2 linked regions of the Homo sapiens genome follow. The protein of the gene in region 2 interacts with the protein of the main gene of each other region in a pairwise test. Each region holds a gene or a part of one and is shown on either strand. Other genes may lie near its edges.

The links. Proteins that work in one complex are often made in the same cells at the same time.
Region 1: the proteins of ENPP4 (region 2) and TMBIM6 interact in binary tests that used the Homo sapiens proteins (3 or more experiments, as listed by UniProt).

The regions. Positions count from the first base shown.
Region 1 is NC_000012.12:49,755,057-49,758,556, reverse strand, and holds part of TMBIM6 (bax inhibitor 1), read right to left. Parts: intron 2,923-3,500; coding exon 2,802-2,922; intron 331-2,801; coding exon 282-330; intron 175-281; coding exon 77-174; intron 1-76. UniProt on the Homo sapiens protein: Endoplasmic reticulum (ER)-resident protein that confers cellular protection as an anti-apoptotic protein by limiting multiple stress-inducing pathways surrounding the endoplasmic reticulum and mitochondria.
Region 2 is NC_000006.12:46,136,489-46,139,988, forward strand, and holds part of ENPP4 (bis(5'-adenosyl)-triphosphatase ENPP4 precursor), read left to right. Parts: intron 1-3,062; 5' UTR 3,063-3,095; coding exon 3,096-3,500. UniProt on the Homo sapiens protein: Hydrolyzes extracellular Ap3A into AMP and ADP, and Ap4A into AMP and ATP. Ap3A and Ap4A are diadenosine polyphosphates thought to induce proliferation of vascular smooth muscle cells.

The DNA.
Region 1 (3,500 bases), on a different chromosome or scaffold from region 2:
GGGGTAAGGAAGGAGTACTAGTGAGAATTCTGGCTAAAAAGGAGCCCCCATTCCCTGTTTCCCAGTTCACACTTACCTCCCAGAAAGAGGTAGCTACGGCGCCTGGCATAGAGTGCACTGAGGGTGAAGCAGGTAAAGATCATTGCCGTGCCCATGAAAGCAGTGGGAAGGATGCTGTTAGAAAAAAAGACCATTAGATTAAGGGCTACAGGTATACGGTCTACATTTAGAAGGTATATTCATAAAGATAAAAGCACATAAGACACTACCAAAAGAGTTACCTGGGGTTGACAGCAATACAAAACTCCAGGGCAGGGCCCAGGCCAACTCCTAGAAAACAGAAAACCCAGAACACAGTATTACGATCAATTCTTGAATAGGATCCTCATCCAAAAGCTGATCCCGAAATATAGGCATACTCATGCTCTTAACAAACGTGGACTAAAGAATTAAATCTCTCTCCCCTCCGCTGTAATTGTTTTCAATAAAATGTATACCTGACTGCGTTGTTTTTTTTTTTTTTATAGAAATAGCTGCAAAATTGTCCTCTTAGCTGAAAATCATGGATGACCTCAGGGAGGGTACAGAGATTACAAGAAAATAAAGTAGGCATGCCAAACATTTCAGAGCTAGAGTGATGTAAGATGGTAATATAGGCCAGATCAGGAATTAGAAAAAAAGGATAAAGAGCAAAACAGTGCCTCGTGGCCAGCAACCTTATAGTCATGTAGGACTGACTCCCCTTTGTAGCAAAGAAAGGTGAGACTGGTTCTGCAGGTGGACACCTGCCAACAGGAGGGCAACCTGTTCCAGCTCTAACATTTCTTTCGTTCTAATTACTTTCCTCTTTCCTTCTGATAATTCCACCCCTTAATGCCTTCAAAAACTAGCTTGCCCTGATGCAAAAATTTTAATCCCTAAATCTCTTCCTTTCTAAAATTTCTCCTACGTATATTAGACTGTCACTCAGAACAAGCTGTTCTAATTCAAATGTTTTGCAAACATTTTTATTACATAGCTTGAGTCTTGTTTCCTTTATGACAATTCTAGAAGAGCTGTGCCTTTCTTTTTTTGAGAATCAGCAAAGTGTCCTGCACAATAGATCTCAATGTATAGCTTTAATGCACTGTCTGTAAGACTCAGAACAGAAGCTCCTATGATAATTGCCAGTATGGGTGCAACTATGTCGGATTCTCAAGTCTAGTTTATTAAAAGTTCTATGCCTACTATTAATAGGTTATGCTACCTAAGCTCTTGAACCTCATTCATTCAAGTACACAATGGCTATTTTTGGACACAAAAGTAGAGTCACAGTGGCTACTCACAGAGTTTCCCCTAATGGATGGGGAAACAAAATGAACCTATATGAGATTAGAAAGCAGGCCAGGAAGGCCAGGCACAGTGGCTCACGTCTGTAATCCCAGCACTTTGGGAGGCTGAGGCAGGTAGATTACCTGAGGTCAGGAGTTCGAGACCAGTCTGACCAACATGGTGAAACCCCGTCTCTACTAAAATACAAAATTAGGGCCAGGGGCAGTGGCTCATGCCTGTAATCCCAGCACTTTGGGAGGCCGAGGTGGGCGGATCACGAGGTCAGGAGTTCGAGACCAGCCTGGCCAACATAGTGGCCCATCTCTACTAAAAATACAAAAGATTAGCTGGCGTGGTGGTTGATGCCTATAATCCCAGCTATTCGGGAGGCTGAGGCAGGAGAATCGCTTGAACCTGGGAGGTGGAGGCTGCAGTGAGCCAAGATCGTGCCACTGCACTCCAGCCTGGGCAACAAGAGTGAAACTCAGTCTCAAAAAAAAAAACAAAAAAACAAAAAAAAGCGCTGGGTGTGGTGGCTCATGCCTGTAATCCCAGCATTTTGGGAGGCTGAGGCGAGCAGATCACGAGGTCAGGAGATCAAGACCATCCTGGCCAACATGGTGAAACCCCGTCTCTACTAAAATACAAAAAATTAGCCGCTGTAGTCCCAGCTACTTGGGAGGCTGAGGAAGGGGAATCGCTTGAACCTGGGAGGCAGAGATTGCAATGAGCTGAGATCTCGCCACTGCACTCCAGCCTGGCCACAGGGTGAGACTCCATCTTAAAAAAAAAAAAAAAAAAAAAAGCCAGGAGGCAGGGTACTATGGCTCACGCCTGTCATCCTAACACTTTGGGAGGCTAAGGTGGGTGGATCACTAGGTCAAGAGATCAACACCATCCTGGCCAACATGGTAAAACCCCATCTCTACTAAAAATACAAAAATTAGCCGGGCATGGTGGCACATGCCTGTAATCCCAGCTATTTGGGAGGCTGAGGCAGGAGAATCGCTTGAACCCGGAAGGCAGAGTTTGCAGTGAGCCAAGATCACGCCACTGCACTCTCTAGCCTGGGTGACAGACGGAGACACTGTCTCAAAAAAAAAGGAAAAAAAGGGCCAGGCACGGTGGCTCATGCCTGTAATCCTAGCATTTTAGGAGGCCGAGACGGGCGGATCATGAGGTCAGGAGATCAAGACCATCCTGGCTAACACGATGAAACCCCGTCTCTACTAAAAATGCAAAATATTAGCCGGGTGTGGTGGCAGGTGCCTGTGGTCCCACCTACACGGGAGGCTAAAGCAGAAGAATGGTGTGAACCTGGGAGGCGGAGCTTGCAGTGAGCCAAGATCAAGCCACTGCACTCTGGCCTGGGCAACAGAGCGAGACTCTGTCTCAAAAAAAAAAAAAAGAAAAAAAAAGGGGGGGGAACTAATTAAGAGATACTGAAAATATAGCTCACCCCTCAAAATTAGACAAATCCCTTAACGTACCTGTAAGGAATGCAAATCCAGCAAGAAGTCCCAGTCTTTTCTGTTCAGTTTCATGGCTATGAGGTGTTGCCATCAGCCAAATCATCAATATCAGGGAGCCCAAGGCAGACAGCAGGCCAGCCTGTTAGAGTCAGAATCAATCAATCATTAAACACTTGAAAGTTTCAAATTTATTTTGCAAGAGACCTTTATTGGGTTCAAACACTCGTCTGAACTTCCTAACATTTGCTTATAACCTGGAGGCAGGAGAAAAAGTAGTGTTTTCTCAGGGATGGGGCTGAGGAGATAACCCAGAAGCCTTGAAGCACAGAGTTAGGACCATGGTGGATGCTGGAGGCTCTTCTGGCTTGCGTAGTCCTTCAACTACAGTACAACTACCCAAGTCAAACTATGAGTGAGTCTTGCCCAAAAAATAGAAAGGATGAATGAAACGTGACAAGTGCTTAAAGTACATTCCATCTGTAGAACAAATAGAAATGATCCCCCTTTGGTCACTTTAAAAAAAACATGGTGGCTCACGCCTGTAATCCCAGCACTTTGGGAGGCCGAGGTGGGCAAATCACCTGAGATCAGGAGTTCGAGACCAGCCTGACCAACATGGAGAAACCCCGTCTCTACTAAAAATACAAAATTAGCCAGGCATGGTGGCACACGCCTGTAATCCCAGCTACTCAGGAGGCTGAGGCAAGAGAATTGCTT
Region 2 (3,500 bases):
TTGTTGTAATACATTTCAGAAAGACCATGGCAATGAAGTATGGTGAATGGAAATTCAAGTTGGCAGTTATTTCTGTATTTATTTCACAGTAATTTGCATGCAAGTTGGACCTGGATATTGGAGGGGCTTCAATGTGAGACTGAGGCATTTGGGCTTTTTGTATAGGCAGGGGGGCCTTTTGAATATATTTTAAATTAAGGGAACATGAACAGAGCTGTGCCCAGAGAGACTGAGTAGGCAGCAGGTGTGAGGTAAGAAAGTGGAAGGTGGTTGAGGTAGAAAGGTGAATTAAGAGACAAAAGTGCTCTGGACAAGAGGTATTGAGGACTAAAAAATATAGCAGTAGTAGAGATGGATGAGTGGGTAGCTGTTAAAAATGCTTGTTTCAAATGCAGGTTTCTGGCCTCTACTGTGGACTGACTGAATCAGAATCTCCTAGTTATAGTGACTTGACAGCTGCACTTTTAACAAGCTCCCTTCAGTGATTCTTTTGTCTGATATGCTGTATTAGATGATACGAAGATAGAATTGACTAGACTGGCAACTGATCATATACTCAGGGGATCTCTTTGTTACTGAGAGAATGGCGAAGCTGTTTTAAAGGGTTGGGAACTAAGGAAGGGGGAAAAGATTTGGAGGTATAGAGAATGCATTCCATCTGACACATATCAGATTGGATTTGGCAGCAGAACAGCTGTGCAGTGGGATAGGATTGGTTGGGAATATAAAATAGTTACACAGGGAAAGAGCCAGAGCAGTAAATAGTGTTTTTCAAAAATTAAGTTTATGAGTATGTTTTCCCTGTGAGAAGATACTGTGCCGCCGTATTTGCTGATTTAAAAGTCTACTCTGTGATTGGAAAGAAATATTTGGATATGGGGAACTATACCCAGAGAGAAACCAGGGAATCTACTCAATCCAAGCTTTCATGGAGACCTGCATGCCCTTGACACAAGTTCTAAAATTGTAGCAACCCACATGATACTGTCATCTGATTGAACCCAGTTAAAACTCTCTGAGGGAGGAGTTAAGTCATACATAAACACTGTGTTGAGGGCATAAAATATTGAATGAACGGGTAAGTACCATTGTCTAGATTCTTGATAGCTGAAATTGCTGTGCTATGACTAGGGCTGTGTCTGTGGAAATACCCATATGCCTCCTCTACCACTCATTAGGTTTGTTACTCTGTCTTTTGGAGAGGTGGTTTTGTTACTCTGCATTAGTTTTGGTTATTAGGGAGCACCAGGAACAAATGTTCCATGCACCACATTCAGAAGGCAACCTGTCTCCGATTAAAATAGTAGAGATTTTGTAGACCCCAAGATCCTCATAAATCAGATTCTGTGCCTTTGGTCTTCCTAATTTTAAGTCAGTTTTTCAGAGGATCACAGCCTCTGTCAGTATTTGACCACAAGTACGCAGATCCTCCAGGTGGCATGTTTGAAAGAAAGAGAGAAAGTGTTTCCAGTCTACTTGAGAGAATACACAATAAATGACTCCTGAACTTCATAATCATATTAGTTAACTTGCTGCTCTTCATACCTGGGACCTCAACATGCATACCCGTTACCATGTTCAGGGTCTTCTTAGTCTGAAATAATGCATTCACTTGTTGCATTCTAACTGCAATCCCAGATCTTTGTAACTTTCACTAAAAGTTACTCTTAACTAATCTTCATTAGTTCTTTGACTTCACCAGAACCTCTAGTTGAAAAACTTCTCTACTTCTTACTTACATCTGTCAGTTTCAGCTTAGATGCTGCAGCCCCAATTTCAGCTGCTCTTTAGTTAGCATCTTCAGCTTCCTTTGTCTTCCTTCAGTTTCTGGCAGAATCTCAAATCCAGGTAGGATCAGCTGCCTGTTTTGTTCATGCCTGTGCCAGGTTTACTGAGTTGCTAGAGAAAACCAGTCAACTGTGTCACTATGAAAATTCATGACAGCTGTCAACATTGACTCCAGTTCTACTGTTTACTCACACTTTCTCCCATCTTCCACATTAACTATTTCAGACATTCTTTCTGTTCCTCAAACCTCTGAACCTTTTACCATTCTACTCCCTGTCAATAATTGACCCTACCTCCGGCAACTCTCTTCACCTCCAGCCCTCAAATCTGTCAGCTCCCCTACCTTTGCTCCTTCTCTCCTGTTACAATGGAAGAGGCATCCTGTCCATCTGAAGTGAATCATTTTACCTCACTCACATGTCCTATTTTCTTAGAGACCAAAGAAGATAGAGAGCAAAGGCAGGGAGATTTATTAGGGAAAAGCTGTTTTTGTCATCAGTGAATTGATTTAAAGAAAGAACAAAAAATCAGAGATAGCTTTAAGCCTAGGGTATTAGTGAAAATAGTTGTTGATAGCTAAAAGGAAGTTTAAGAGGGATGTGGTAATAAAACTCATTTCAATAGCTATTGGATTTCTTCATAAGTTACTGGAGCATCCATGTCCATGTAGGCTTTGCATGTTTGTTAATCAACTTCATGTGACTATTGGGGCACATACAGACTGATGGGGGCTTTTTTCTCAATAGCATTTATTTCTTATTCCCCCTTTTTTATAGCAATATTTTCAACAAGAACTGGCAATAAACCAATATGGTAGAATTTCCACCAATTATTTCTGTGGGTTAAAGAAACTATAAAGTACAATTTATTAAACTGGAAAAATAATCATCATCTCTGGAGCCTCTGAAAGCTTGGCATTAACGTTATGTTTTACAAAAGAATCATTTTAGTGTCTGCATCTATTTTTATTAAGCCTTTCGAAGAATTTCTAATGTGGCAAATGAGCTGACAGCCTAGAAGGAGTATTGATGTGGAGTATAAAAATGGCCCATATGAAGGATAGAGTAGGGCATATATATAAATAGGAAATTGGACAAGACAATTTTTTTTCCAATTTTAGCTTTTAGTTATTTTTAAATAAATGGTATTATTTAAGTTAATATAGGTAAAGCTGGCATATAAATGTTGGTTCTCTCCTCCTGTGGGCTAAAATTCTAAAACTTAACCCAAATGAAATAGAATTACTACTTATGAGTTGTGTTTTTACATTTTAGGAACCCTGATTGCTGTCCTTCAACGTGTTCATTATGAAGTTATTAGTAATACTTTTGTTTTCTGGACTTATAACTGGTTTTAGAAGTGACTCTTCCTCTAGTTTGCCACCTAAGTTACTACTAGTATCCTTTGATGGCTTCAGAGCTGATTATCTGAAGAACTATGAATTTCCTCATCTCCAGAATTTTATCAAAGAAGGTGTTTTGGTAGAGCATGTTAAAAATGTTTTTATCACAAAAACATTTCCAAACCACTACAGTATTGTGACAGGCTTGTATGAAGAAAGCCATGGCATTGTGGCTAATTCCATGTATGATGCAGTCACAAAGAAACACTTTTCTGACTCTAATGACAAGGATCCTTTTTGGTGGAATGAGGCAGTACCTATTTGGGTGACCAATCAGCTTCAGGAAAACAGATCAAGTGCTGCTGCTATG